Regions from separate parts of the Homo sapiens genome. Here region 2 is linked to region 1. Evidence: fine-mapped expression QTL. A gene starts in region 1. The other region holds a variant in brackets. All regions are shown on one strand. Distances are from middle to middle. Region 1 holds the start of SBNO1 (strawberry notch homolog 1). Region 2 overlaps KMT5A (lysine methyltransferase 5A).

The links.
Region 2: its variant is fine-mapped to the expression of SBNO1 in whole blood (TOPMed, PIP above 0.99).

What each region holds. Positions count from the first base shown.
Region 1 is chr12:123,356,079-123,372,061 of GRCh38, reverse strand. SBNO1 (strawberry notch homolog 1) reads left to right here and starts at 7,215. Exons shown (of 32, transcript NM_001167856.3): 1 at 7,215-7,361. MIR8072 (microRNA 8072) reads left to right here and starts at 7,219; the gene lies at 7,219-7,298. It overlaps SBNO1-AS1 (SBNO1 antisense RNA 1), which reads right to left and starts at 7,114. Exons shown (of 2, transcript NR_157806.1): 1 at 6,947-7,114; 2 at 6,258-6,537. RefSeq lists silencers at 1,256-1,429, 6,835-6,934, 7,065-7,304, 7,415-7,494, 7,535-7,644 and enhancers at 6,455-6,664, 8,125-8,174, 7,831-8,549.
Region 2 is chr12:123,393,320-123,409,302 of GRCh38, reverse strand. It overlaps KMT5A (lysine methyltransferase 5A), which reads right to left. Exons shown (of 8, transcript NM_020382.7): 4 at 14,037-14,256; 5 at 12,871-12,958; 6 at 5,671-5,730; 7 at 4,229-4,419; 8 at 1-1,810. The coding sequence ends at 1,600. Among named protein-coding and RNA genes, the nearest start is that of KMT5A, 17 kb to the right of the region's middle. RefSeq lists an enhancer at 6,668-7,431. The variant A/G (reference allele first, on the strand shown) is at 7,876.

The DNA of each region.
Region 1 (15,983 bases):
AGGCAGGCGGCTGGAAGGTGGAGGTTGTGGCGAGCCGAGATCACGCCACTGCACTCCAGCCTGGGCAACAGTGAGCATTGAGTGAGCGAGACTCCGTCTGCAATCCCAACACCCCGGGAGGCTGAGGCGGGCAGACCACTCGAGGTCAGGAGCTGGAGACCGGGCCGGTCAACAGGGCGAAACCCCGTCTCCTCCAAAAATACAAAAACCAGTCAGGCGTGGCAGCGCACGCCCGCAATCTCAGGCACTCGGCAGGCCAAGGCAGGAGAACCACGGGAGCCCGGGGCAGGGAGGCTGCAGCGAGCCGAGACCACGGCAGTACAGTCCAGCCTCGGCAACAGAGGGAGACTGAAGAAAGAAGGGAGAGGGAGGGGGAGGGGGAGGGGGAGAGAGGGAGCTATTTATTATTTCTTCAAGACAGGATTTCACTGTCACCCAGGCTGGAGTTCATGCAGTGGCACAAAGATGGTTCACTGCAGCATCGACTTCCTGGGCTCAGGGGATTCTGTGCCTCAGCCTCTTGAGTACCTGGGACCATACATGTGTGCCACCATGCCCAGCTAATTTTCTTGATTTTATCTTTGTAGAGATGGGGTCTCACTATGTTGCACAGGCTGGTCTTAAATTCCTGGCCTCAAGGAATCCTCCTGCCTTGGCCTCCCGAAGTGTTGGGATTACCAGCGTGAGTCACCACACTCAGCCCCTGGTCTGTTTTTTTTTTTTTTGAGACTGAGTCTCCCTCTGTCACCCAGGCTGGAGTGCAGTGGCACAATCTCAGCTCACTGCAACTTCTGCCTCCAGGGTTCAAGCGATTCTCCTGCCTCAGCCTCCCGAGTAGCTGGGATTACAGGCGCCTGCCACCATGCCCAGCTAATTTTTTTGTGTGGGTTTTTAGTAGAGACGGGTTTTTACCATGTTGGCCAGGTTGGTCTCGAACTCCTAGCCCCAGGTGATCCACCTGCCTTGGCCTCCCAAAGTGGTGGGATTACAGGAGTGAGCCACCGTGCCTCGCCTGTATTGACTCTCTCTCTTTTTTTTTTGAGACCGAGTCTCCCTCTGTAGCCCAGGCTGGAGTGCAGTGGCACGATCTCGGCTCACGGCAGCTTCCACTTCCTGGGTTCAAGTGATTCCCCTGCCTCACCCTCCCGAGTAGCTGGGATTACAGGTGCCCACCACCACGCCCAGCTAATTTTTTTTTTTTTTCAGATGGAGTCTCACTCTGTCACCCAGGCTGGAGTGCAGTGGCGTGATCAAGGTTCACTGCAACCTCCACCCCGCCGGGTTCAAGGGATTCTCCTGCCTCAGCCTCCTGAGTAGCTGGGATTACAGGTGCTTGCCATCGTGCCTGGCTAATTTTTGTATTTTTAGTAGAGACGGGGTTTCACCATCTTGGCCAGGCTGGTCTTGAACTTCTGACCTCGTGATCCACCCGCCTCAGTCTCACAAAGTGCTGGGATTAAAGGCGTGAGCCACTGCGCCCGGCCAATTTTTTGTATTTTTAGTAGAGACAGGGTTTCACCATGTTGGCCAGGCTGGTGTTGAATTCCTGACCTCAGGTGATCCACCCACCTCGGCCTCCCAAAGTGCTGGGATTACAGGTGTGAGCCACTGCGCCCAGCCCAGCCTGTATTGACTCTTGTTTTTTCTTTTTATTTTTGTATTGACTCTTTTTTTTTTTTTTTTACTATACTTTAAGTTCTAGGGTACATGTGCACAACATGCAGGTTTGTTACATAGGTATACATGCTCCATGTTGGTGTGCTGCACCCATTAACTCGTCATTTACATTAGGTATATCTCCTAATGCTATCCCTCCCCTCCCCCTTCCCCCCTGTATTGACTCTTATATCAAAAAAGTTAAGGCTGAGCACAGTGGTTCCCACCTGTAATCCCAGCACTTTCAGAGGCCAGAGTAGTAGGATCACTTGAGCCCAGGAGTTAGAGACCAGCCTGGGCAACATGGTGAGACCTTGTCTCTATAAAAAGAAAACCAGGGCCAGGCGCGGTGGCTCACACCTGTAATCCTAGCACTTTGGGAGGTCGAGGTGGGTGGATCACCTGAGGTCAGGAGTTTGAGACCTCCTGCCTGACCAACAAGGTGAAACCCCGTCTCTACTAAAAATACAAAAATTAGCCAGGCATGATGGCAGGTGCCTGTAGTCCCAGCTACTTGGGAGGCTGAGACAGAGAATTGCTTAAATCCAGGAGGCAGATGTTGCAGTGAGCTGAGTTCATGCCACTGCACTTCAGTCTGAGCAATGGAGTGAGACTCCGTCTGAAAAAAAAAAAAAAAAAAGAAAACTGAAAAACCAAAAAAGCTCAGGGTTAGAAATCGCTTCAGGTTTGACAGGGTCCCAGGACTCAGCAGATGTCATCAGAATCCAGTCCCTCCCCACCCCACCTACTCCTTTGCCCTGCTGTTTTCTGGGTTGATCTCATTATCAGCGTGGCCTCCTGCCCCACAGGGCCTCTGCCCCAACTTCCCAACACTGTCTTAGCAACATCAGAGGCAAGAGAGTATCTTTTTCCTGATATTTTCAATGCAAAGTATTAGAACTGCGACTCACTGGCCCGGCACCAAATCGGATCACTATGGCTGTGGATCCAGTATTCTAATCAGCTAGACCTGGCTTGCACACTCAATCTGGAGTGATGTGCATGAGACATGGTTAGTGCTCTCCAAACCACATGGACTTTGAGAGAGGGAGATAAAACTAAGATGCGGCTCTCTGAAGAAAGAACCATAGATTCTGGGCAGTCAAAAACAACTGTCTACCACAGTGTTTGCCATCTTGAATAATCCAATAGATGCTTCAGCCACACACTGGTGCTCTCTGCTGCATTAGACATCGCTGGTGCTAGTGTCTCTGAATTAGAGGGTGACCTTTATGGGGGCTCTGATTGCTCCTGGTGTCTCAGGGAAGGATTTGGTGTGATGAGGCTAATTCAGCGAGTGTGTGGAAAACTGCAAACTGGGTATAGTTGATGCTATTGCATAGAAGTGCAGCTGCCAGGGTGAAGAAGTGTTGCTGGGATGACTACTCCCTTGCATCCATGATATAATCTCTCCTTGATTCTGCTTTGACCTCTCTGATTGACCTTTCTCATGCTCACTGGGTGCTCACTTTCTTTCTTTCTTTTTTTTTTTTTGAGGAGTCTCGCTCTGTCACCAGGCTGGAGTGCAGTGGTTCGATCTTGGCTCACTGCAACCTCCACCTCCTGAGTTGAAGTGATTCTCCTACCTCAGCCTCCTGAGTAGCTGGGATTACAGGCACACACCACCACACCCAGCTAATTTTTGTATTTTTAGTAGAGACGGGATTTCACCATGTTGGACAGGATGGTCTCGATCTCTTGACCTCGTGATCCTGCCATCTTGGCCTCCCAAAGTGCTGGGATACAGGCGTGAGCCACTGTGCCCGGCCTGGTGCTCATTTCTTTTTTGTTGTTGTTGCTGAGACAGAGTCTTGCTCTGTTGCCCAGGCTGGAGTGCAATGGCACCATCTCCACTCACTGTAATTTCCGCCACCTGTGTTCAAGTGATTCTCCTGCCTCAACCTCCTGAGTAGCTGGGATTACAGGTGTGCACCACCACACCCGGCTAATTTTTTGTATTTTTAGTAGAGACAGGGTTTCACCTTGTTGGCCAGGCTGGTCTCAAACTCCTGACCTCATGATCCACCCACCTTGGCCTCCGAAAGTGCTGGGATTACAGACGTGAGCCACCACACCTGGCCTGGTGCTCACTTCTTAGACACAGAACCTCAGCTCTGCCCCTGGCTCTCCTCTCTGCATTCTCTCCTAGTTGTATTTTTTTTTTTTTTTTTGAGATGAAGTCTCACTCTGTCGCCCAGGCTGGAGTGCAGTGGCATGATCTCGGCTCACTGCAACCTCCACCTCCTGGGTTCAAGCGATTCTCCTGCCTTAGCTTCCCAAGTAGCTCAGATTACAGGTGCCTACCACCACATCCGGCTAATTTTTGTATTTTCAGTAGAGATGGGGTTTCACCATGTTGGCAAGGCTGGTCTTGAACTCCTGACCTCAGGTTATCCACCCACCTTTGCCTCCCAAAGTGCCTGGATCACATGTGTGAACCACCGTGTCCAGCCTCTCCTAGTATAGTTTTATCCCGTCTCACATTAATCCCCATCTGGATCCCCAAGCTGTAGGATTCAATTGCTTCCTAAGTATCTCCAATAGGATGTCCCAAAGGTCCCTCACCCTCAAAATTCCTTATGATTTACTTTGGTAGCGTCCAATGAACAACACTTCCCACTAGTCATACCCTTGTGTTGCCTTTCCTGAGCTGAATTTGGCTGCCTTGTTAACCAATAGAATGTGGTGGAAACATCACTGTCAGTTGCAAGCCTAAGAATTTTTTTTTTTTTCCAGACAGAGTTTTGCCAAGCGCAGTGACTCATGCCTGTAATACCAGGACTTTGGGAGGCTGAGGCGGGCGGATCACCTGAGGTCAGGAGTTTGAGACCAGCCTGGCCAATATGGTGAAACCTCCTCTCTACTAAAAATACAAAAATCAGCTGGGTGTGGTGGCACACACCTGTAGTCCCGGCTACTCGGGAGGCTGAGACAGGAGAATTGCTTGAACCTGGGAAGCAGAGGCTGCAGTGAGCCGAGATCGCACCGCTGCACTCCAGCCTGGGTGAGATAAAGCAAGACCCCGTCTCAATAAATAAATAAATAAATAAATAAATAAATAAATAAATAAGGCCCGACGCAGTGGCTCACGCATGTAATCCCAGCACTTTGGGAGGCTGAGGCGGGCATATCACCTGAGGTCAGGAGTTCGAGACCAGCCTGGCTAACATGGTGAAACGCCGTTTCTACTAAAAATACAAAAAATTAGCCGGGCGTGGTGGTGGGCACCTGTAATCCCAGCTACTCAGGAGGCTGAGGCAGGAGAATCACTTGAACCCAGGAGGCGGAGGTTGCAGTGAGCTGAGATCCCGCCATTGCAACAAACTAGCTTGGGCAACAAGAGTGAAACTATGTCTCAAAAAAAAAAAAAATTAAAAAAATAGTTTCGCTTTGTTACCCAGGCTGGTGCAGTGGCACGATTATAGCTCACTGTAGCCTCAAACTTCTGGGCAATCAAGTGATTCTCCTACCTTAGCCTCCTGAGTAGCTGGGACTATATATCACACTTGGCTAATTAAAAGTTTTTTGTTGGGCCGGGCGCGGTGGCTCACGCCTGTAATCCCAGCACTTTGGGAGGCCGAGATGGGTGGATCACGAGGTCAGGAGATCGAGACCACGGTGAAACCCCGTCTCCACTAAAAATACAAAAAAAAAAAAAAAAAAGTCCTAGCTACTCGGGAGGCTGAGGCAGGACAATGGCGTGAACCCAGGAGGCAGAGGTTGCAGTGAGCCGAGATCGCGCTACTGCACTCCAGCCTGGGCGACCGACAGAGCGAGACCCCGTCTCAAAAAGAAAAATGTTTTTTTGTCGAGATGAGGTTGCACTTTGTTACCCAAGTCTGGTCTCAAACTCCTGGCTGAGATCCCCGTTTCAGCCTCCCAAAGTGTTGGGATTACAGGCGTGAGCCACCACACCTGGCCTGTGCCTAAGGTTTTTTTTGTTTTTTGTTTTTGAGTCGGATTCTCGCTCTGTCGCCCAGGCTGCAGTGCAATGGCACGATCTCGGCTCACTGCAACCTCCGTCTCTTGAGTTCAAGCGATTCTCCTGCCTCAGCCTCCAGAGTAGCTGGGATTACAGGTGCCCGCCACCAAGCCCCAGCTAAATTTTGTATTTTTAGCAGAGATGGGGTTTCACCATGTTGGCCAGGCTGGTCTCGAACTCCTGACCTCAGGTGGTCCGCCCACCTCGGCCTCCCGAAGTGCTGGGATTACAGGCGTGAGCCACTGCGCCCGGCCTAAAATATTTTTTATTTTTGTCTTTATAGGTTTTTTTTCTATGTGTGTGAGAGGATTAAATGAAATAATGTAATTAGTAAAGCGATTAGTTAGCACTTTAAAAATATTTATAAATGTATACATAGATATATAATACATATCTATGTGTACAAACACTGAAGTTTCCTATTCTTTCTGTGCCTACTTTTTCCTTTCTTTCCCCGAATACTTTGTCTCTGGAAGAGTTCACACTGTAACCTCCAACTGTTCCAGCTACTTGGTTTGCTTTCAGCACTAGGCTTGTAGGATGCGCAGCCAGTAGGGGGCAAGAATCACCCAGGCGTGCTTATTACCCAAGCAACGGAGTCAAACAGCACTTTCAGAATGACTTTACAAAAGGGTTACCAACAAGGTAATATGTTTATTGTGTTAGGTCGCTTAATAATAACGAAAAGATGAAAACAAGGAAGTGAGAAGCGGTAGGGACAGCCCTACTCTTCAGTATTCATTAAGTGGGAGCCCCGGTGTGTCGGGCTTGCGTATGAGCGTGAAGACAGACGTGGGATGGCTGAGCTCACACGCCTTAGGCTCTGATTCTAGCCGTGGTCGCGCCGAGGGCTCCGGGTTACTTGCGGTTTCACTGCCAATAAAGTGCTTTGAGCGAGCCTAACAAGCAATGAATATGTAAACATTTTGTTTCTAGGACTAACTAGGTAATGAAGAGATCTTCCAAGTGACAGAAACGCTGCTAGGTAACTTCCTGGGCCGTAGCTCCCCACCCTAACAGGTTCTGAAAATAGCTCCAGGCCCTTCCTAACCGGAGTTTGAAAGCAGGCGCGGGGCGCATGCGCGCGGCCCTCCGGCCGACCTCCCGATAGCCCTGGCACGCGGACCTTCTTCCCGACAGGCCGCGGGGAAAAAAGGGCGGGGAAACGGAATTACCGCGAGCTCTCCGTGAGCGCCGGCGGAAACAGTAGTCACGTGACTCTCCTAGGTGGCCTTCGCCTTCCCCCTCCCCCTTCGCGGAAACCCGGCCCCCTCACCCCTCGCCCACCCCAGAGCCGCGGTAATGGACCGTTTGGGTTCCGGAATTCTCTTGGATCCAACAACTGGTACCGGGCCGAGGATAGCCGGCGGAGTCCGTTTTTGGCGGCGAAGACTGGGGGGTGGTCAAGATGGGGGGGAAATCATCTTCCTTCACCTAGGAGGGAGGCGGGGCGGAGAGGGGCGCAGAGAGGCGGGTGGGGGAGGAGGGAGGAAGTCACGTGAGGGCGCTGCGTGCGCGCGGCGCCTCATCCGTTGCCCCTCCCCCGCCCCTCCCGGCGGGGCGGGGGGGCTGGGGGAGGGGCGTCAAGATGGCGGCGGGGAGGTAGGCAGAGCAGGACGCCGCTGCTGCCGCCGCCACCGCCGCCTCCGCTCCAGTCGCCTCTGGTCCTTCAAACTCACACCTCCCGGGAGGAGCTGTGCTGGCGCCGGGTCCCGCGGGGAAAGTAAGTCCTTCCCTTGGCCCTTTTCTCCTTCCACACTCCCCCTCCCGGACAGCCTCCCACTCCCACCCTCGGGGGGCCGTGCGGGGCCAGGCTGGGGGGACAGCCACCTCGCCCCGGCTTGGGGCCTCCCTCGCCGCTTGCCGCTCCTCGCGGCCGCGCGCTCCGGGGCCCTCGGGGGCATGTTCCCGACGGCGGCTCCGTTGTACTCGCTTCCTCTGTTCGTCAGCGCCGGGCCCCGCTGTCGCCGCTCGTGGGGCTTTCGGGCTCCGGGAGCCCCGCTGTCCCGGGCCGGAGGCACCCCTCTTGGACCGCGGGGCAGGGTCTGTGCACGCCGGCTCCGCTGGGTTCGCCCCTTTGGCTTCCGCCTCACAACCCGGGGGCTGCGGGTCCGGGACCCGCGGGGAAAGTAAGGACCGGATCCTTCCCAAGTCCTCTTTCGTGCCCCAGCATTGCTCCCGGCTCTGGGCGAGGGAGGGAGGCAGGCGACGCGGTCGTCCTTCCTAAATCTGAACCCCACAGCGCGGTCTCGTACATGCCCCGCTCTTGGGGCGGTGGGGAAGCCGCGGGGGACACGTGCAGGCTCCCTTCACGCCTCTCCAGGCGACTCGCTTAGTTCTGCCTCGGCGGGCGAGCTCACCTCCCAGACCCTAAGAATTACCCATGGAGGGGAACGGCAGTTGGGGATTTGCTTACTTTGAGAGCGTTTGGCATAACGAGCATCCAGAGTTCCCCAAAGCAGTGGATACCGGTGGTTTCCCAGAAGTGGTTTGGGGTCGGTTTAACCGCTGAGGAGATTTGGATGTTCCTAAACCCTTCTGATTGTTTCTTTCCTGACCCTGGCATCCAGCTCCTCCCCTTCCCACCCCTGCTTTGTGCTTCTGTTTGGTTAATGTTTGCGGACCACTAACTTGATCCTCGCACAGAGAAGCTCTTTTTATGTGCGTGCTCGGTTTACTGTGGGAGGCTTTTGTTTTGGGGAGTCGCTGGTTGAGAAACGTGGGAAAAGAACGGGCCAGAAAATGAGAGACAAATAAAGCAACGTTTTTATCCATTGAATTGCGCAGCCAATTGTAAGTGCACCCGGAAGTTTGTACTGAACACGTGTTGAGGGAAGGTTATAAACTGGTCCCCTTTGACCTTTGAAAGTTGGCTATTATCATTTTATGTTGAGTTAAATGTTTCATATATTCTAGACAGCCAGAATTAGGGATGGAATATGGTTTCTAAAGAGTCATCCAGAAGGGTGCAGAGAACTGTCATCCGGAGTGCCCTAGCAGGAATTGACTTAACACTTTCAGATAATTCTGCGAGCTGACAGTACAGAGGGATTCTATTTTCCACCATATTTTCTAGCAATCAGAATTGATTTTCATAAGCGTAGGGAAAGCTATCATCGTTGCACAGAAGATAGCAGAATTTCCTACTGGTGACTTGAGTGGGACATTAATTTTGCAAGCAAGGGAACATTTTCTCTCATCTTTTAAAGAAGTTGTTTCCAAAATTTTTCCGATGGGAGACGACTTTACTTTTTTTCTCTGGCTTCTGCTTTTTATCTTCCATTCCAACTTATTCCATATAATTGCGTTTGGAATATTTATGCTATTTTTAAATTTTTGAGACAGGGTCCCACTCTGTTGCTCAAGCTGAAGTGCAGTGACGTGGTCATAGCTCACTGCAGCTTGAACTCCTGGGCTCAAGCGATCGTCCCACTTCAGCCTCCGGAGTAGCTGGGACTACAGATGTGCACCACTACAGCAGCTAATTTTTTTTTTTTTAATTTTTTTGTTGAGAGGCGGGGGTCTCACCATGTTGGGAGGCAGCTACTGGCCTCAAGCAATCTTCTGGCCTCCGCTTCCCGAAGTGGTGGGATTACAGGCATGAGCCATTGTGCCTGGCCCCTTCAGAATCTTTTTTTTTTTTTTTTTTTTTTTTGAGGCGGAGTCTTGCTGTGTTGCCCAGGCTGGAGTGTAGTGGTATGAACTCGGCTCACTGCAACCTCTGCCTTCAGGGTTCAAACAATTCTCCTGCCTCAGTCTCCCTAGTAGCTGGGATTGCAGGCATGTGCCACCACACCTGGCTAATTTTTTTTTATGTAGTTGGCAGAAAGGGGTTTCACCATGTCGGCCAGGCTGGTCTCACACTAGTGACCTCAAGTGATCCACTCACCTCTGTCTCCCGGAGTGCTGGAATTACAGCCGTGAGCCACCGCCCTTGGCCCCCCCGTCAGAATCCTTTTTTTTTTTTTTTTTTTTTTTTTTTTTTTTTGAGACGGAGTCTCGCTCAGTGGCCCAGGCTGGAGTGCAGTGGCACGATCTCTGCTCACTGCAAGCTCCGCCTCCCGGGTTCACGCCATTCTCCTGCCTCAGCCTCCCAAGTAGCTGGGATTACAGGTGCCCGCTGCCACGCCCGGCTAATTTTTTGTACTTTTAGTAGAGACGGGGTTTCACCATGTTAGCCAGGATAGTCTCGATCTCCTGACCTCGTGATCCGCTTGCCTCGGCCTCCCAAAGTGCTGGGATTGCAGGCGTGAGCCACCACGCCCAACAGAATCTTTTTTTTTTGAGGTGGAGTCTCGCTCTCTCGCCCAGGCTGGAGTGCGGTGTCATAACCTTGGCTCACTGCATTCCTCTGCCTCCTGGGTTAAAACGGTTATTCTGCCTCAGCCTCCCAAATAGCTGGGACTACAGGCGCGTGCCACCATGCCCGGCTAATTTTCGTATTTTTAGTAGACACGGGGTTTCACCATATTGGCCAGGCTGGTCTCAAACTCCTGACCTGGTGATCCGCCTGCCTCGGCCTCCCAAAGTGCTGGGATTACAGGCGTGAGCCACCGCGCCTGGCCTCAGAATCTTAAATAAATCTTCACTTTAGTTGCTGAAGGGGAGACACTGAGTTAGTGGCCTACTATTCATTCATTCATTCATTGAATGCGGTTATATGTCAGGCAATTTTGTATTTTTTTTTTTTTTTTAGACTGTCTTGCTCTGTCACCAGGCTGGAGTGCAGTGGGGTGATCTGAGCTCACTGCAACCTCCCGCTCCTTGGTTCAAGTGATTCTCCTGCCTCAGCCTCCTGAGTAGCTGGGATTACAGGTACACGCCACCACGCCCAGCTAATTTTTGTACTTTTATTTATTTATTTAAATATTTTTTGAGATGGAGTTTTGCTCTTGTTGCCCAGGCTGGAGTGCAATGGCGCGATCTCGGCCCACTGCAACCTCCCCCTCCCGGGTTCAAGTCATTTTCCTGCCTCAGCCTCCCGAGTAGCTGGGATTACAAGCATGAGCCACCACGTCTGGTTAACTTTGTATTTTTAGTAGAGACGGGGTTTCTGCATGTTGATCAGGCTGTTCTTGAACTCCCGACCTGAGATGATCCACCCACCTCCGCCTCCCAAAGTACTGGGATTACAGGCGTGAGCCACCATGCCCAGCCTTCTTTCTATTTTTTATTTTTTTGAGACGGAGTCTCACTTTGTTGCCCAGGCTGGAGTGCAGTGGTGTGATCTCTGCTCACTGCAACCTCCACCTCCCAGGTTCAAGCAATTCTCCTGCCTTAGCCTCCCAAGTAGCTGGGATTACAGGCATGTGCCACCACGCCCAGCTAATTTTTGTATTTTTAGCAGAGACGAGGTTTTACCATTTTGACCAGGATTGTTTCAATCTCTTGATCTCGTGATCCGCCTGCCTCGGCCTTCCAAAGTGCTGGGATTATAGGCGTGAGCCACTGTGCCCGGCCAATTTTTGCATTTTTAATAGGGATGGGGCTTCACCATGTTGGCCAGGATGGTCTCGATCTCCTGACCTCGTGATCTGCCTGCCTTGGCGTCCCAAAATGCTGGGATTACACGTGTGAGCCACTGTGCCCAACCTGTAGGTTTTAAGTGCCTTACTGAAAGTACTGTTGAAAAAGGGGCAGCATGCAGATTCATTTTATGCTTTAAAAAGTGGTTTGTCTCGGCCAAGCTTGGTGGTGCACGCCTGTAATCCCAGCACTTTGAGGGGGCCGAGGCTGGTGGATCACGAGGTGAGGAGATCCATACCATCCTGGCTAACACGATGAAACCCCTGTCTACTAAAAATACAAAAAATTAGCTGGGCGTGGTGATCCGCACCTATAATCCCAGCTACTCTGGAGGCTTAGGCAGGAGAATCGCTTGAACCTGGGAGGCAGAGGTTGCAGTGAGCCGAGATTGCGCCACTGCACTCCAGCTTTGGCGACACAGCGAGACTCTGTCTCAAAAGAAAAAAGTGGTTTCCCTCAGAGTTTAGCTACAGATATGTTTAGGCATTTCTTAGCATCTAAATTGAGCTTCGATTTGTGACTTGCCACCTGTGAAGATGGAGAACACTCAGGGCTAGTCCTACTGAGTAACCTCACATTCCATGAGGCTCTGTGGGTTCCCATGCTTTGCCTTTCTAAAGTTGGTGTAAAGATACATTTTTTTTTTTTTTTGAGATGGTGTTTCACTCTTGTCACCGAGGCTGGAGTGCAATGGTGCAACCTTGGCTCACCTGCAAGCTCCGCCTCCCAGATTCAAGCGATTCTCCTGCCTCAGCCTCCCAAGTAGCTGGGATTAACAGGCGCCCACCACCATACCTGGCTAATTTTTTTGTGTGTTTTTAGTAGATACAGGGTTTCATCACGTTGGCCAGGCTGGTCTCGAACTCCTGACCTCAGGTGACCAACCGGCTTGGCCTCCCAAACTGCTGGGATTACAGGCTTGAGCTACCATGCCTGGCCAAAGATAATTTTTAAGAGTAATTACTTTAGCATTAAATACCAATTAATAACTATCTAAAATGATGTAATCCTAAAGTTTTTGCAGTTGTCTTTGTTTTTATATGCTGATTGACAGATGCAATTTGTTGTGGCTTGAACTCACCAAGTGTTAAGACAACCTTAGGGATACCACTGAAATTTCCTTAAGTGGAAAGGATGGGCTCTTAAAGATCAGGAATTCTCTTTTATGAATAAGATATGGTATGAAACCTATCAAATTAACTTATTTATTGGGAGGCAATATATAGATCAGAGTCATGCTTTTCAAATATTTTTATTGCATCCCACAGTAAGAAATGCGGTTTACATTGTGACCTAGTATACATATACCCATACAACTATATATATATCTTTTTTTTTTTTTTGAGACGGAGTCTCCCTCTGTTGCCCAGTCTGGAGTGCACGAGTGCGATCTTGGCAACCTCCACCTCCTGGGTTCAAGTGATTCTCCCACCTCAGCATCTCAAGTAACTGGGATTACAAGTGTGTGCCACCACGCCCAGCTACCTTTTTTGTGTATTTAGTAGAGACATATATGTATATGTTGGCCAGTGTATATGTTGGCCAGGCTGGTCTCGAACTCCTGGCTTCAAGTGATCTCATCTTGGCCTCCCAAAGTGCTGGGATTACAGGAGTGAGCCACCGCACTCAGCCTATACTGAGCTATTTTAAAATGCTGATACAGTAGGCTGGGTGCGGTGGCTCACTCCTGTAATCCCAGCACTTTGGGAGGCTGAGGCGGGCTGATCACGAGGTCGGGAGATGGAGACCATCCTGGCTAGCACGGTGAAACCCTGTCTGTACTAAAAATACAAAAAAATTAGCTGAGTATGGTGGTGGGCGCCTATAATCCCAGCTACTGGGGAGGCTGAGGCAGGAGAATCACTTGAACCCGGGAGGCAGAGCTTCCAGTGAGCCAAGATCTCGCCTCTGCCCTCCATCCTGGGTGACAGAGCAAGAGTCCATCTCAAAACAAAACAAAACCTGATACACCAAATTGATTTGACACCCTGCTAATGTGTTGTCATCAGTAGTTTGAAAAGTACTGGAACAGGGTTGGGAGTACAGGATCTTGGAGTGATGTGGTGTCAGACCTTCTGAATTTGTAATTCTATTCCAAGCTCCCTTTGTTGTATTTCATTTTTCTTCTTCTTTTTTTTTTTTTTTTTTTTTTTTTGAGACGGAGTCTTGCTGTGTTGCCCTGGCTGGAGTGCAGTGGCGCGATCTTGGCTCACTGCAAGCTCTGCCTCCTGGGTTCACGCCATTCTCCTGCCTCAGCCTCCTGAGTAGCTGGGACTACAGGCGCCTGCCACCGCGCCCGGCTAATTTTTTTCGTATTTTTAGTAGAGACGGGGTTTCACTGTGGTCTCTATCTCCTGACCTCATGATCCACCTGCCTCGGCCTCCCAAAGTGCTGGGATTATAGGCATGAGCCACCGCGCCTGGCCCGTATTTCATTTTTCTAAGCCTTGGTTTATAAATTGTGACAAAGGGATAATGGGTAGCATTTGATACTCATGGGTTATCTTGAAGGTTAAAAGAAAAAAACACACCCATATATGGGTTGAGCATCCCTAATCTGAAGATTCAAAATCTGAAATGTTCAAAATCTGAAACTTTCAGCACTGACATGATGCCACAAGTGGGAAATTCCACTCTTGACCTCACGTGAGTGATCACAGTCCAAAATGCAGTCAAAACTTTGTTTCATGCACATTTTAAGGTACTGTATAAAACTATCTTCAGGCTATGTGTATCTGGTGTATATGAAACATAAGTGTATTTTGTGTTTAGACTTGGGTCCAGTCTCTAAGATATCTCATTATGTATGTACAGGTATTCCAAAATCCAAAAAACCCTGAGTCACTTCTGGTTCCAAGTTTCAGATACGGGAAACTCAGCCTGTAGTGAGAATCAAGACAATTGACCATCTGAATTTGACTAGTGATAATCAAGAAAGTTGTTTAATTCCCCCCAACTCAATTATTTGTGTATTGCTTTTGTAAAGGACTTTTGTGGCTTTGTATATAATTTGCACATTCCTTTGTAAATATCTTCTTCCTACAGGTTTTGCAGTGGGGGTTACTTTACCAAGCAAGGTCCTATGAAGGGTAGGTGTTGAAAAGTACAGATTGCATTCTTTGTTGTTGTTGTTTTGTTTGTTTCTGAGATGGAGTCTCCTCTTTCGCCAGGTTGGAGTGCAGTGGCACGACCTCGGCTCACTGTAACCTCCACTTTCCGGGTTCAAGCTATTCTCCTGTCTCAGCCTCCCGAGTAGCTGGGACTACAGGCACCCGCCACCAGGCACCCGCCACCATGCCCAGCTAATTTTTGTATTTTTCGTAGAGATGGGGTTTCATCATGTTGGCCAGGATGGTCTCAATCTCTTGACCTTGTGATCCGCCTGCCTCAGCCTACCAAAGTGCTAGAATTACAGGCGTGAGCCACCATGCCTGACTGTTTGTTGTTTTGAGACGGAGTCCCACTCTGTCGCCCAGGCTGGAGTGCAGTGGTGCAGTCTCGGCTCACTGCAACCTTCACCCCCTGGGTTCCGGTGTTCTCCTGTCTCAGCCTCTGGAGTAGCTGGGATTACAGGCACGCCACCATGCCCGGCTAATTTTTGTGTTTTTAGTAGAGATGGTGTTTCACTATGTTGACCAGGCTGGTCAGGTCTCGAACTCCTGACCTCAAGTGATCTGCCTGCCTCGGCCTCCCAGAGTGCTGGAATTACAGGCATGAGCCACCATGCTCAGCCCAGATTACATTCTTTTAGATAAAGGAAATTCTTGTAAACTAACTTCTTTGTAACTGCTGTTTCTTTCTCCTGATGTTCTTAAGTGTCTACTGCACACAGTAGACACTTAATATTTGTTGATGAACTGTATCTCTAACTGGATCATTATCTTAAAATTCTTAAACTAAATGTCAGTCATATCACAGCTGCATAAAAGCACAGATAAAGCTGAATCTCGAATCAGACATGCTTAGCACTCTAAGGAGAAAAAAATCCTTTTTGTTATTAGCTAAGGTGAAGATATTTGCTAAGTGATAGTATCCGTGCACATTTAAAAATGTCCACCAGTTTATTCTAAATTTAGTAACTGATTGGTCAAGTTGGATGTGTAGCAGTAACACTTTAAGATAAAAAGGGACTAGTATTTTATATAATTGATATGTGCAGGGCACGGTGGCTCACGCCTGTAATCCCAACACTGTGGGAGGCCGAGGCGGATGGATCAATTGAGGTCAGGAGTTTGAGAACAGCCTTGCCAACATGGTAAAACCCCGTGTCTACTAAAAATACAAAAAAATTAGCTGGGTGTGGGGGCACGCGCCTGTAATACCAGCTACTCTGGAGTCTGAGGCAGGAGAATCGCTTGAACCCAGGGGGGCGGATTCAAGGTTGCAGTGAGCTGAGATCGTGCCATTGCACTCCAGCTTGGGTGACAGAACAAGACTCCATCGCAAAAGAACAAACAAACCCAAAGACTAGTATGAAAGTTAATTATTTAATGGATTGCTAACAAAGTTTGTATTCTGGGGAATAAAGTGCTGAATCAGTGATATGGGAGTAAACATCTTTTTTGGATGAAATACTAACATATATATAAATGATAGTAGCTAGCTAGTAGCTAACATTTACTCCAGGTAGTATCACATTTACTTCACACAGTAATCCTATGAAGGAAGTTCTATTTGTATTATTTTAAGATGAGGAAACTGAGTCAGAGAAGTTCTCACTTGACCATATCATACTACTAGTGGGCAATGCAGCCAGTATTTGAACCTAGGTATTTTGTCCGACTCCATGATCTCCTCAGCCACTGTGGTGTGCTACTGC
Region 2 (15,983 bases), 37 kb before region 1:
TTTTCAAGTTTATTTCCTTGTTTAAATACAAAGCTAAACCACAAACAGGTATAATCAAGACATTGTGTCTCACATTTACACTCCCATCGGATCCTCTTCCAATTTGCTGACCACTGACCAGGCTAGCGGGGGGTGGGAGGGAAGACTTTCTTAGGTAGCACCGTCGTGAGGCCCGAGGTGGGGTTGGGGGGGAATCAAAGACGAGGACAGCCTCTCATACCTGTCTCCATTCACATTTACCTGGGACCAGGGTGGGCAGGAGACACCAGGTCATGGCTCCTGAGCCCCGGCCCCCTGGACTGAAGGGACAGTGTGTGAGAATCAGTTCTGTGAAGGGCGGGAGGAAGCAGTCACCTATTCCTCCTGCCTTCACAGTTAAGGTGAAAACCTTAGCCCTATCCTTGATTCCTGGGGGCTGCCGGGCCCTGTGTGCTCCCCTGCACACCTGGGTGCCTTTCTGAGGCTGGCAGCAGCGGCCGGGGTCAGGGGTCCTGGGCTCCTAGGCTCACACCTCAGCTCACAGTTGCGTCCTTGCAGGAGGACACTGGGTGTCTGACAAACACAAGGCCTCGACAGCAGGTCTGGAACTTTCAACCCCAGCAGGATGAGGGGGAATGGGGGTGGATGTCAGGTAAGTAATTTCTGGTCCCACTACAAAACTTTATTTTTGATTAGAGTACCATTCTCAATCTCTTCTACAAAAAGCAAAAAAAAGCAAAAAAAAAAAAAAAAAAAAGCAGCCACTTCACTCACTTCAAGACCTATATACATGTAAAGTTGTTTTCTGTGGTTTTTTTTATTTTTAATTTTTTTAAATTTTTATTATTATTTTTTAAAATAAATTCAGTGTTCACATTTCTATAAAGAATTAACCCAGTTTCAGGAAACCCTGCCCCAGCAGGGCAGGTAAGCAACCCTCTCCCTGCCCACATCTAGTTTGATTTCACGCCCTGATGCTTCAAGGTGCCCAGAAAAGCGGCAGCTTGTGGAAGAGGAAATCTATGCCCGGCCCGTGCTTGGGGCCCGGGGCTCAGTAAGCTTTCGAGAAAGCAGAGGGGAAGACTAGCTTACTGCAAAAACCTTTTTAAAAAATATTCATACACTTCAGTGAGCGCCTGTTGAGACGTTAGGGGAACAAGAGCTTGGAAACATCCCGTCCAGGCCATTGGGAGGCAGCGTCTTCCTCACACCCCGTCCCTGGATGTCGGGGGTGCAGGGGGAAGGTCCCGGCTCTTCCACTGGAGAAAGGAGACTCACCTGGCTTCCTAGTTCATGTTTGACTATTTCCTCTAAAACCTGTGCTGAGTCTTTGACTGCATGCACGGGAAGCACAAACGTTCGGCTTGTATGCAAAAAAAGTACAAAAACAACTAGAATATAAAAGTTTTGGTAATATAAGGCCATCTGTTCAAGTCCACCTTGGAAACCTGTAACAGATATTTAAATACTACAGTGAAAAGGCATCTTAATATACTTTTTAAAAACATCTGAAGTAATCCGCTAAGATTAAGTGTGTAAAAAAAAAATTCAATTCCCTTTGAGGGCACTTTGTCCTTTGAAGAAGGGAAAGTGGGGCGGGGAGGGCACGGGGCCCACCGGTTAATGCTTCAGCCACGGGTGGGCTTCAATGGAAGCCTTGCTGCGGTCCCCATAGTCATACAGGAGCTCCTCCCCAGCCGCGATGTCTCGGGAGGCGATGAGGATGAGGTGAGGTACGCCGTCGATGTCGTGCAGTTTGGTTTGGCAGTTCCCACATTTGCTGTGATTGATCAGTCTTCCTAGGCGATTTGTCTCTCTAGTTGCATCCACGCTGGAGGGGAAGGAGGGCCAGAGAGGATTAAATGGATAAAGAGGCTTTTCAACCTGAAGAGAGTCACACTTGTGCTCAGCTCTGGTGGGATGCTGATTTAAAGCCATGTGTTTTGAAAAGATTCAATTCATAAAGCTATTTTCTTTTTCCTTTTTAGAGGGGGTCTCGCTCCGTAACCCAGGCTGGAGTGCAGTGGCACGATCACGGCTCACTGCAGCCTCCACCTCCCGGGCTCAAGTCATCCTCCTACCTCAGCCTCCCGAGTAGCTTTGACCACAGGTACATGCCACCACATCAGGCTAATTTTTAATTGTTTCTGTAGAGACAAGATCTCCCTATATTGCTCAGGCTGGTCTCCAACCCCTGGGCTCAAGTGATCCTCTGGCCTTGGCCTCCTGAGTTTTTGAGATTACAAGCACGAGCCACCAGGTCTGGCTCAATTTGCAAAGCTTTTTTTTTTTTTTTTTTTTTTTTGAGAGGGAGTCTCGTCGCTCTGTCGCCCAGGCTGGAGTGCAGTGGCACGATCTCAGCTCACTGCAACCTCTGCCTCCCGGGGTAAGGCAATTCTGCCTCAGCCTCCTGAGTCACTGGGATTAGAAGCGTGTGCCACCATGCCAGGCTAATTTTTTTGTATTTTTAGTAGAGATGGGGTTTTGCCATGTTGGTCTGGAGCTCCTGACCTTCATGATCCATCCACCTCGGCCACCCAAAGTGCTGGGATCACAGGCATGAGCTACCACGCCTGGCCCACAAAGCTATTTTTGAGAGCCTGCACAGGCCCTGGGTGGGGGGATGGGGTAGGACCCAAAGGGCTCTTTATGGAGGCACAGGAGGAAATGGTAGAGTTTCACAAAATAAATGGATTAAAAAAATCAACCCCGCCAGGCGCGGTGGCTCACGCCTGTAATCCCAGCACTTTCGGAGGCTGAGGCGGGTGGATTACCTGAGGTCAGGATTTCAAAACCAGCCTGGCCACCATGGTGAAACGCTGTCTGTGCTAAAAATACAAAATTAGCTGGGCGTGGTGGCGCATGCCTGTAATCCCAGTTACTTGGGAGGCTGAGGCAGGAGAATTGCTTAAACTTCGGAAGTGGAAGTTGCAGTGAGCCAAGATCGTGCCACTGCACTCCTGCCTGGACAACAAGAGTGAAACTCCATCTCAAAAAAATAAAATAAAATAAAAAATAAAAAATTCAACTCCACTGGTCCTAGCCAGGCAAGATCAATTAGTGATTTCCAGAGCTGCTCTGGCCAAATGCCCTGAAGGAGAGCCAGGTGAGCTGCTTAACAGGTTTTCATGTGACTAGCCCACTTCTCCCCTTGGATGAGATAACATCCAGGACAGCTCCAATTCCAAAGATTAAAAATGGGAAGCTGGGGCCACAGTGGCTCATGCCTGTAATCCCAGCACTTTGGGAGGCCAAGGTGGGCAGGTCACAAGGTTAGGAGATTGAGACCATCCTGGCTAACACAGTGAAACTCCATCTCTACTAAAAATACAAAAAATTAGCCAGGCATGGTGGCATGTGTGTGTAGTCCCAGCTACTCAGGAGGCTGAGGCAGGAGAATCGCTTGAACCTGGGAGGTGGAGGTTGCAGTAAGCCAAGATTGCACCACTGCACTCCAGCCTGGGTGACAGAACGAGACTCCGTCTCAAAAGAAAAAAAAAAAGGGAAGCTGGGGCCAGGCGCAGTGGCTCACATCTGTAATCCCAGAACTTTGGGAGGCTAAGGCAGGCAGACCATATGAGGTCAGACCAGCCTGGCCAACATAATGAAACCCTGTCTCTACTAAAAAAATATATAAGAATTAGCTGGGCGTGGTGACGCACACCTGTAATCCCAGTTACGTGGGAGGCTGAGACAGAATACCTTGAACCCGGGAGGTGGAGGTTGCAGTGAGCCAAGATTGTGCCACTGCACTCCAGCTTGGGCGACAGATCGAGATTCAAAAAAAAAAAAAAAAAAAAAAAAAAGGAAGCAGGCGATAATTGCATCACAGCTTTGAAAAAAGGCAACAACAGCCCGAGCGCAGTGGCTCACACCTGTAATCCTAGCACTTTGGAAGGCCAAGGCGGGTGGATCGTCTGAGGTCAGGAGTTCAAGACCAGCTTGGCCAATGTGGCAAAACTCCACCTCTACTAAAAATACAGAAAAAAAAAATTAGCTGGGCTACTCTGGAGGCTGAGGGAGGAGAATTCTTTGAGCCTGAGAGGAGGTTGCAATGAGCCGAGATCACACCACTGCACTCCAGCCTGGGCAACAGAGCAAGACTCCATCTCAAAAAATAAAAAAAAAAAAGTCAACAACAACAAAACCAAAAGACTGGCCACCAAACAGAATCAGGAGTTCCTGGCCCTTTGGCCTCTCCTCACTGCCCAGAGGACAGAAAAGCCACTCTAAGCAACAGTGGACTCACCAGTAGGTTTTGCTCAGATACTGAAAATAGTACATGTAGCAGCCCGTGGAAGGGTCCTGTGCGTACAGAGCCTCCCGTTTCTTGGCGTCGGTGATCTCGATGAGGTCCCCGTGGTATTCCACCACAAAGTCACCCCGGGAGAACTGCTTGGTGGCAATCACACCCCTGCCTTTGCCATCGATGAGGTCAATCTGTCAGGTGATAAGAGAGGGTGTTGGTTCATAATAGCAATGGATGCCACTGTGCACAGCAGGTCTCCGGGGAGCTGGGGCTTACCCCAGTCTTTAACAGCTGTACTGAGCCATGTCATAAAATTCACTCACTTTACATGTACAGGCTGATGGGTTTTATGAAGTGTATACAGCTGTGCAACCGTCACTACAGGCCAGCTCTAGAACGTTCCCTCACTCCACAAACGTGGTTCCTTGGTGCTCATCTGCAAAGCAGTTACATCAGAGCTCGTGAGAGATCTGCTAGGTGGAGACTGCCCCATTTTGTAGATGAGGAAACTGAGGCTTAAAGAGGCACAACCACGTGTCTGAGGCCACACAGCTAGACAGTGACACAGCTCAAATCCACACACCTGGTTTCTCTGTCTAGGGGCTATGCGCTATGCCTTCCTAGGCAAACAGCAGGCCCAGTGTTCTGGGTCTCTACCTCATTCCACGATTTCTCTCCTGTGTCTCCTCACTCTATTCTACATGGAGTTGAATGGGGTTGCTGGAGGGGCCCAGGACTTAAGCCGGAATCCCCCTAGGTGGTGGGTGGAAGTGGAAGCTTTCTGAACCCGGAGCCCTAGTCTAGGCCCATCTGAACCCCACTGTAGAGAGTACTTCTCCTCTCGCCCAAACTGAGTGTGGTTGAAATACAGTAAGAGAAAAGCACATTTCTTGGGCATTGTCATTATCTAGGAAAACAGTTTAAAAATGTATTAGTTTCTCCTTTTAAAAGTTTCCCTGGGCATCAGCTACATATTGTATAATCCGATTTATATGAAGTGCCCAGAAGAGCAACTCCACTGAGACAGAAAGCAGCTGAGTGGCTGCCAGGGGCTGGGCAGGGGAGAGGTGGGGATGGTGGGCAGTGGTAAGTAATGGGTAAGGGTTTCCATTTGGGAGGATGAAAAAATTCTGAAATTAGACAGGGATAATGGTTGCATTGCATTGTGAATGTACAAAAAGCCACTGAATTGTTTAACCACAATTTCTAAGAAAAGCTTCCCCTGGATAACATTTATATACAAAGCCCATTTATGTTTCCTTCATAAGACATTTCCTTAACAACTTTTGGTATTTGGCTCTTTGACAACCTAATAGAGTCTGCCTGGTCACCATGGCCATTAGAGGGTGAAAGCCACATGGTGGCCACTCTCAGCCACGGGACCAGGGAAGGTGAGCTCTTCCAGCTTTAGCTATGATGCAGCAAGCACAGCAGCCCCTTACCTTCATTCCTTCTTCCTTCCCACTTTCAATCAATTCATCTATTCTTTTCCTTTCTTCAGACTGGGCAGAGAGAAAGAAAAACAGCATCAGTATCTTCTCCTAGGCCCATCGTGCGTAGCTTGATGGTCTTGAGCCCTGATTGCCCAGGCCATGCCCACCGGGCCACAATCGGCCTCATTTGGCATCACTGGGGATGATGGGTCCCCAGTGATGGCAAAGCCCCCAAGTATCCCTCCTTTTCTCATCACCCATCTGTTGTGGAAGATCTGTCACCTGGGGTTCAACTGGATCAGGAGGGAAACAGTGGGGACCCAAGAACAGAATGGGGCTCGTAGATATGTTCTGTTGCCCATGCAGCACGTTAAAAAATGTCCAACTTGCCCACACCTGAAAATCAGGCCTCTGACTTCACAGAAAATCAGGTACAGTGGGCCAGGCGCGGTGGCTCACGCCTGTAATCGCAACACTTCGGGAGGCCGAGGCGGGCGGATCGTAAGGTCACGAGTTCGAGACCAGCCTGGCAAATAGGTAAAACCCTGTCTCTATTAAAGATACAAAAATTAGCCAGGTGTGGTAGGAGCCTGTAGTCCCAGCTACTCGGGAGGCTGAGGCAGGAGAATCGCTTGAACCTGGGAGGTGGAGGTTGCAGTGAGCCAAGATTGTGCTACTGCACTCCAGCCTGGGCGACACAGCAAGACTCCACCTTAAAAAGAAAAAAGAAAATCGGGTACAGCAGATCAGAGGCTGTGCCCTTTGGATGGGACACACGCAGTCCACATGGCTCTGGTCTGATGGCTCATACTTCTGTTTGGGATCGCTGAGATTCACCTGTATGGAGGCCACCACGATGGATGAGAAGAGGGCCTCCAATCCCGAGGGTCAATACAGACCTGAACAGAGAACTGGGAGGGGGCACCCCTGGATCCACCTCTCCTCTAAGGCCACCCCTCCTGCACCTACCTCCATCCCTAACCCTGGGTTCTACTGCTCTGCCACTGCACAGATACTACAGAGCAAAAGGGAACCAAATGAAGACAGATCGGAAGCTCCAAACCAGTGTGGCTCACCCCAAACCAGCATGTCTTGACGGCATAGACTTTCACCAAACCAGATGGCACGTGTCAGGAGCCTGACACCAACTGCTGAGCTCAGCCCATTCCCCCTACACAGAGGCCCAAACCAGCTTGCAGCTTTTCCAGGCACTCAATCCACACCTGCAATGTGCCAGGCGCTGCAGTCTGTGCTGGGAACAATGGTGAATGAGTAACCTCAAGGACAGTCCCAAATCCTGCCACCTCCTCTCCATCTCCATTCCCACTGCGGCCCTGCAGCCCAGCCACGGCCCCGGCCCCGCTCCGGCCCCCTTGCTAGTCACCAGGCTTTCACTCTGACCCCAGGGAACACTCAGTTCTCCACAAGGTAGCCAGAGGGGTCTTTTAAAATGTAAATGAGGCCAGGGGCAGTGGCTCTCTCCTGTAATCCCAACACTTCAGGAAAGCCAGGAGGAAGGATCGCTTAAGGACAGGAGTTAGAGACCAGCCTAAGCAACAGATCCAGACCCTGTCCCTACAAAAAATAAATAAGCTAGGTGTGGTGGCGTACACCTTTGGTCCCAGCTACTCTAGAGGCTGAGGAAGGAGGAGGATTGCTGGAGCCCAGGAGGTTGAGGCTGCAGTGAGTCATGACTGTGACACTGCACTCCTGCCTGGGCAACAGAGTGAGACCCTGTCTTAAAAAAAAACAGAAAACATGACCAGGCATGGTGGCTCACGTCTGTCATCCCAGCACTTTGGGAGGCTGAGGTGGGTGGATCACTTGAGGTTACGAGTTTGAGACCAGCCTGGCCAACATGGCGAAACCCCGTCTCTACTAAAAACACAAAAATTAGCTGGGCGTGGTGGCACACACCTGTAATCCCGGCTACTCAGGAGGCTGAGGCAGGAGAATCGCTTGAACCCAGGAGGTGGAGTTTGCAGTAGGCCAAGATCGCACCACTGCACTCCAGCCTGGGAGACAGAGCAAGACTCCATCTCAAAAAGAAACAAAAAACAAAAAAAAACCTTCCCATAAACTTATTTAATAGTAATATACCTAACAAAACCTCACATATCAATATTAACCTTAAACATAAATGGACTAAAATGTTCCACTTAAAAGATATGAAAGATAAGGGTCAAGAAGGTTAAAAAAAAAAGAAAGATATAC[A/G]CCTGTTATCCCAGCACTTTGGGAGGCCGAGGCGGGCGGATCACGAAGTCAGGAGATCGAGACCATCCTGGCTAACATGGTGAAACCCCATCTCTACTAAAAATACAAAAAATTAGCCGGGCATGGTGGTGGGCACCTGTAGTCCCAGCTACTCGGGAGGCTGAGGCAGGAGAATGGTGTGAGCCCGGGAGGCGGAGCTTGCAGTGAGCCAAGATCGCGCCACTGCACTCCAGCCTTGGCAACAGAGCAAGACTCCATCTCAAAAAAAAAAAAAAAAAAAAAAGAAAGATATATATTGGTGGAATAGATTTAAAAAAAACAACAACAAAACTTGGTCAGGTACAGTGGCTCATGCCTGTAATCCCAGCAGTTTGGGAGGCCAAGGCAGGTGGATCACCTGAGGTCAGGAGTTCGAGACCAGCCTGGCCAACATGACGAAACCCTGTCTCTACTAAAAATACAAAAATCAGCCGGGCATAGTGGTGCACACTTGTAATCCAAGCTACTTGGGAGTCTCAGGCCAGGAGGCGGAGGTTAGTAAGCCATAATCATGCCACTGTACTCCAGCCTGGGCAACAGAGTGAGACCTTGTCTCAAAACAAAAAACAAAAAACAAAAAAAAAACTTCAACCAACAGTAATATACCAATGTTGGTTGTTACTTAGCTGTGACAAATTCACCAGAGTAACTTAAGTGAGAGAAGATGGGTAAGGAGTCTGGGGAACTCTCTGTATTATCTTTGCAACTTTTCTATAAAATTAAAATTATTGGCCAGGCGCGGTGGCTCACATCTGTAATCCTAGCACTTTGGGAGGCCAAGGTGGGCGGATCACAAGGTCAGGAGTTTGAGGCCAGCCTGACCAACATGGTGAAACTCTGTCTCTACTAAAAACACAAAAATTAGCTGGGCGTGGTGGCAAGCGCCTATAATCCCAGCTACTTGGGAGGTTGAGGCAGGAGAATTGCTTGAACCTGGGAGGTGGAGGTTGCAGTGAGCCGAGATCGCACACCTGCACTCCAGCGCGGGCTACAGAGTGAGACTCTGTCTCAAAAAAAAAAAAATTGCAAAATAAAAACATTTTAAAAACTTTTTGGCTGGGCACGGTGGCTCACGCCTGTAATCCCAGCACTTTGGGAGGCCGAGGCGGGCGGATCACAAGGTCAGGAGATCGAGACCATCCTGGCTAACACGGTGAAACCCCGTCTCTACTAAAAACACCAAAAATTAGCCGGGCGTGGTGGCAGGCGCCTGTAGTCCCAGCTACTTGGGAGGCCTTTTTAATTATTTTTTAAGATGGGGTCTCACGGCCGGGCTCAGTGGCTCACGCCTGTAATCCCAGCACTTTGGGAGGCCGAGGCAAGTGGATCATGAGGTCAGGCATTTTGAGACCAGCCTGGCCAACGCAGTGAAACCCTGTCTCTACTAAAAATACAAAATCAGCTGGGCATGGTGGTGGGCGCCTGTAATCCCAGGTACTCAGGAGACTGAGGCAGGAGAATCACTTGAACCCGGGAGGTGGAGGCTGCAGTGAGCCAAGATCGCGCCATTGCACTCCAGCCTAGGTGACAGTGTGAGACTCTGTCTCGAAAAAAACAAAACAACAAAAAACCCACAAAAGATGGGGTCTCACAATGTTGCCCAGGTTGGTACTGAACTTCTGTTCTCAAGTAATCCTCCCACCTCAGCCTCCCAAGTAGCTGGTGTCTTTTTTGTTGTTAATTACTCCCCATTGGAAAACAAGCCCTACGGGCTGGTCTAGTTTACTGTGGAATCTCCTGGTCTAGAACAGTGCACACAGCAGGCCCTCAAAGCAACACCACCACCATCACACACATAACCACCTTGCTGTGTGACCCATTCATTGCAAGTGTGCAGAGAGTGCTGAGAAGTACGGGGGCCCATGTAAACGGGAGTGATCATGGAAAGACCGGGGTAGTGGAATGGGGGTTTTTCTGCTGGGACCAAACACGGCAGGTAGGAGATGCGCAGAGGGAAGCTGGGACCAGGCCAGATGCCCCGGCACAAAGCCAGGGAGGCTGAGTCTCCCAAAGGCCTGGAATTTGGGGCCTGCAAACAACCAGCCCTGGGTTTTCTAAAGGGACTTCTGGCAGGAACCCACAAATGGGCCTAGAAGGAGATGGAGTGGGAGGGATACAAGGTTGGAACTAGGGCAGTTGAGAAGCGCCTGTGACCAGGAAGGAGGGGACCTTCCCAAGCGGAATCAGCAGGCTGCTTGCACATCTGGCCCTGGGGCCGAGCTGGGCATGAGGAAGCCCAGCCATTGCCAAGAGGCATGGTCCCTGCCCCGCTGCTGGCTGCCACCCCACCCACAGCCAGGCTGGCCGGCCAAGGGGCCCCTGCAGTGAAGCACTTGGTGGATAGGGCATCTCTCCAAGGCCCACCTTGTGTCCAAATCCAGCAGCCCTGATCCCACCCTGTTGCCCAGGACCCACGCCCTGGCGCTAGGCCCGCCCTGGCTGCTGTCTTCAGCCTCAGTGGAGGTATATAAGAGGCTCTGAATTGCAGTTTCACCCCAGACCATCTGGCCAACAACAGGCTGTATTATGCCCCACCCTCCTGGATCCACAGCCTGGGCCCAGCATGGCAGTCAAGTCAGGACTGACCCCACCCTTCAGATGAGCCCCAGCTGTCCCGTTCTTGGGCTTTATCTGTGCAGTCAGAAAATATTCCACCCTGACCAGCTCTAGCCACGTCATCCCGGCCAGCTATGGCCTCCCTGCCCTGGCCAGCAACAGCTTGCATGGCTGCACTCAGCAGAGCCAACACAAACAGTGGGGGGCAAAGCACGGCTCCCGGTCCAGGAACAGGGCGAGCTTTCTTGTGTTTGCAGACTGTGCTTTAGGGAAGCAAGTGTGTTCTTCCCTTCTGCTCATCTGCTGCAAGATTTAGCAGACCTGCATCCTGTCCCATCGCAGCCTTCACTCTGCCCAGCACAAACTCTTGCTTCTTATTAACAAGGCCAACTCGGCTCCCCCCACCCTAAAGTCCACAGCAGCCCTTGGTGGACGCTCAGCAGAGGCCCTGTGTGTGGGCACACCGCAGCTCCAACCCTGGCTGGGAGGTGTCTGGGATTCTGTGGTCTGGCACCACCTCACCATCTGCAGTGCTGTCTTTTTTTTTTTTTGAGACGGAGTCTTGCTCAGCCACCCAAGATGGAGTGCGGTGGCGCGATCTCGGCTCACTGCAACTACCGTCTCCTGGGTTCAAGTGATTCTCCCATCTCAGCCTCCCAAGTAGCTGGGATTACAGGCACCTGCCATCATGCCTGGCTAATTTTTGTATTTTAGTAGAGACAAGGTTTCACCATGTTGGCCAGGCTGGTCTCGAACTCCTGACCTCAGATGATCCGCTCACCTGGGCCTCCCAAAGTGCTAGGATTACAGGTGTGAGCCACTGCACCTGGCCCAGTGCTGTCTTTAAGAGTGACCTAGCAGGCCGAGCACGGTGGCTCACGTCTGTAATCCCAGCACTTTGGGAGGCTGAGGTGGGCGGATCACCCGAGGTCGAGAGTTCGAGACCAGCCTGACCAACATGGACAAATCCAATCTCCACTAAAAAAAAAAAATACAAAATTAGCTGGGCGTGGTGGCGAATGCCTGTAGTCCCAGCTACTCAGGAGGCTGAGACAGGAGAATCACTTGAACCCAAGAGATGGAGGTTGCGGTGAGTCGAGATCACGCCATTGCACTCCAGCCTGGGCAACAAGAGCAAAACTCCATCTCAAAAAAAAAAAAAAAAAAAAGTGACCTAGCACAGCCTCCCACTGCTGACAAATGTTTTAAACAGCTCATTCTTGGCTGAAAGACATTGCCTTTTTCAGGCAATAAAACCAAAGCTGCTCTCTGTGGGGAAGAAAATGGACCTTTTTAAAAATTTTTTTTAAATGAAGCTTCATCAATTAAAAGAAAAAGAGAAAGAATACTAGACCACTGTGTATCTGCGCATTTAACATCAAGAACGCTGAAGGAGTCCGCATGAGGGCTGAAATGCTGAAACTGCCAAAGCCGGGGTCCCCACCTCTCTGTGTAGGATGCAATCCTGAGCACCTCTCCCAACCCGGTGGTCACTGTGGGGGTGAGGGAGAGCAGAGGGGCAGCCCCAGGTGTCCCTGAGGGGGAAGAGCAGAGGGACCTGCCATGCCCTGCGTTTCCTTCACAGAAAGGCAATAACCACACCTCACTGCAGCAAATATTGACTGCCTGCCGCATAGCTCAACCCTCTGCAAACATGGCAGCGGAGGCCCGCATAGGCCAGCTGGCCTTCCAGCCGGTGCTGCTCACTGGTCTGCAGGCTCCTAGTATGGCAGCAGCGTGGGAAAGAGCAGACGGGAGTGACAACACTGAGGAAGCAGAGGTGGCGATAGTAACAGTTAGCTGGCACTTACTGAGTGCCAAGCATGGTTCTAAGGGTTCCTCTTGCATGACCACATTTATTGAATGCTCACCACAGCTCTAGCAGGTACTACATTATTGTACCATTTTACAGACTGGAGAGCCAAGGCATGGACAGGGTAAGTGACTGGCCCAAGGCTACGCAACCAGCAAGTGGCCCCAAGCCACTGCTGTTTAACACCCTGGGCCACAACATGGAAACTTCCAGAAAACAGACAAGAAAAGCCTCTGAAAGAACAGGCAGCCTTTCCCACAGTCCCAGGCTCCCAATGGCTCTGCCAACAAGTCCTGGAAAATCCACCTTCAGAGTCACACCTGGCTTTCCCTGCCACATGCTACAAGTCACAAGGTTCCTTCACACAAGTGTCTTAACCAAGCCCTGCAGTGACCCCAGCAGAAAGGCAGGACAAGCTTTGTGAGGATCCCCGATAGATCCAGGAGAAAACCAAGTCCAGAGGGGCCAAGAGACTTGCTCCAAGATGACGAAAACAAGGCTGAGGACACACACATACGCACACGCCAAGCACTGCTTGGTGGGCCACCCTGCCCCTCCACAAACTGGAATTTAAAGCACGTGACTACCTGCAGCTCGGCTTTGCTCTTCCTGGAGCTCCTTCGGACAGGGTAGAAATCCGTAAGTTTGCGATTCTGTTGCGTTTTTCCTTGAGCTCTGGGTAAGAGGGGAAGAGGAGAAAATAAATATCAGGACTGAAAACCTGGAGGCACACAGCTCCTTAGAAGGCACACACCGAGGAGGCACACAGCTCCTTGGAGATGATGTCACTTAAACACCTTTGTCCACTGGAGCCTGCAGGTCACTCAGTCACCTGCCCATGAGGGCCTCAGAGGAGTTTCAAAGACGGGCTGCTGGCTGGGCGCAGTGCCTCATGCCTGTAATGCCAACACTCTGGGAGGCTGAGGCGGGAGGATCACTTGAGCCCAGGAGTTCAAGACCAACTCAGGCAACACAGCAAAACCCCGTCTCTAAAAAAAGGAAAGAAATTAGCCAGGCATGGTGGTGCACACCTATGGTCCCAACTACTCGGGAGGCTGAAGTAGGAGGATCACTTGGTCCTGAGAGGTTGAGGCTGCAGTGAGCTACTGCACTCCAGCCTGGATGACAGAATAAGACCCTGTCTCAAAAAACACAACAGTCGGGCATGGTGGTTCACGCCTGTAATCCCAGGACTTTGGGAGGCTGAGGCAGGCAGATCACGAGGTCAGGAGTTTGAGACCAGCCTGACCAACATGGTGAAACCCTGTCTCTAATAAAAATACAAAAATAAGCGGGACATGGTGGCATGCACCTGTAATCCCAGTTACTCAGGAGGCTGAGGCAGGGGAATCGCTTGAACCCAGGAGGTGGTGTTTGCAGTGAGCCGAGATCGCACTATTGCACTCCAGCCTGGGCAACAAGAGACTCTGTCTCAAAAAAAAAAAAAAAAAAACACAAAACACCAATCACCAAAAAAGACAAACAAAAAAAATAAATTTAAAAAACAAAGGCTGCTTATGCTGGGGTGGGTAAGGAGGGGAGGAAGGAGAGGCTCTTGAACTCTGGACCCATGCCAGATCCAGAAACTGACAAACAGTGGCATCCCTGCTGATGACTCGGGGCATCTGAGTCTTTGACATGAGAGAGGCTGAGAGGTGGCCACTGAACCCCCATGGGCACCTGAGCAGGCTTCCCTGGCATCAGAGGAACCAAACTGCTCCACGTTAGGAAGAGGACTGAATGGGGCACTTACTTTTTTCGGGGGGCCTGTTTGCCCTTGATGGGCTTTTTCAGGGCTTGCTTGGCGATGGCTGCATTGGTGGAATCACAAGATGAGGGTGGAGTTTTTGGAGGTTCTGCTGCTTCAGATTTTTGGTTTGGAAAAGGTACCAGGGGACCTTTCCTGGCGTCTTTGATCTTCTGTTCCTCGGACTTCATGGCGCTCCGTACTGCGTTCCCAGCATTTCTTTTCTCTGCAGGCGGAGGTGGGGGAAAGACGGGTTTATTCTGTACTGTCTCTCAATTTCCAGACGACCAGCTGCATTCTAAGACAAGCTTTGAGAAGACAGGATCCTGGGTTTGTCAGGCAGGAGTGCCCTTGGCCTGTTAAGCCCCGTGTCCGCTATGGGCTATGACAGGGGGAGTGCCTAGCTCCAGCTCGATTTTTTGACCAAGACACTGGGCAGAGGTTTTAGGCTTTTGCATCTTGACGTGGGAGATAGAGAGCCTGTGAGGGAGAGGCACCAGAGACGGAGACGCTGGCAGGGTGCTTGATCAATAGCTTTCAGGAATCAGGTTGCAGACTCAGATCAAAAGCTCCATTCCTGAAGGCTGGGACAGCATTAGGGGACAGGAGTAAGGTGACAAAGCAGAAACTCTTCCCCAAGAGCTGCCTGGCACCCTTCATTTCAGACTCCGAAGAAAAAGAAGGTCCCCTTCTAGTGGGGTTGAAGCCCCAGGTTCACAGCAGTTCTCAGCATGGTGCCCCAGCAGACTGGCCTGGGTATCGGGAGACACACTGCAATGATCTGTCACTTAAAACACTTGTGGAGTGACAGTGTTGGAAAACTGCTTACCTTTTTAAAAAATGTTTTACTTTTAAATAACTAAGTAAATAGGCTGGACACAGTGGCTCCTGCCTGTAATCCCAGCACTTTGGGAAGCCGAGGCTGGCGGATCACCTGAGGTCGGGAGTTCAAGACCAGCCTGGCCAACATGGTAAACCCCATCTCTACTAAAAATACAAAAATTAGCCAAGTGTACTGGCGGACACTTGTAATCCCAGCTACTCAGGAGGCTGAGGCAGGAGAACTGCTTGAACCTGGGAGGCGGAGGTTGCAGTGAGCTAAGATCATGCCATTGCACTCCAACCTGGGCGAAAGAGTGAGACTCTGTCTCAAAAAAAAAAAAAAAAAGAAAAAAAAATTAAGTAAATAGTACGCTGCTCACAGATATAAAATGGTGCAGCCACTTTAGAAACAGTTTGACATTTTCCCAAAAAGTTAAACACAGAGTTACCATATGACCCAGCAATTTCACTCCTAGGCATCTATTCCAGAGAATTAAAAACATATGTCCCCAAAAAAATCTATGCAGGAACGTAACAGTTTATTTGTAATAGCCAAAAAGTGGAAACAACCCAAATGTCCATCAACAGATGAATAAACAAAATGTGGCCTATCCACAAAAGGGAGTATTATCCAGCCATAAAAAGGAATGAAGGGCTGGGCAGGGTGGCTCCCCTGAGGTCAAGAGTTCGAGACCAGCCTGGCCAAGATGGTAAAACCCCATCTCTACTAAAAATATAAAAACATTAGCCAGGCGTGGTGGTGTGCGCCTATAATCCCAGCTATTTGGGAGGCTGAGGCAGGAGAATAGCTTGAACCTGGGAGGCAGAGGTTGCAGTGAGCCAAGATTGCACCATTGTACTCCAGCCTGGGTGAGAGAGAGAGACTCCTTCTCAAAAATAAAAAAAAGGAATGAAGCACTGATACTTATTACACCGCGGATGAACCTTGAAGACATGATGCTCAGTGAAAGAAGCCAGACACAAAAGGCTATGTATTTTGTGATTCCATCCATATGAAATGTCCAAAACAGGCAAATCCACAGAGACAGAAAGTACTTTAATGGTTACCTTGGACTAGAGGGATGGGGAATCGAAGGTGACGCCTAATGGGTACCTTTCTGGGGTGATGGA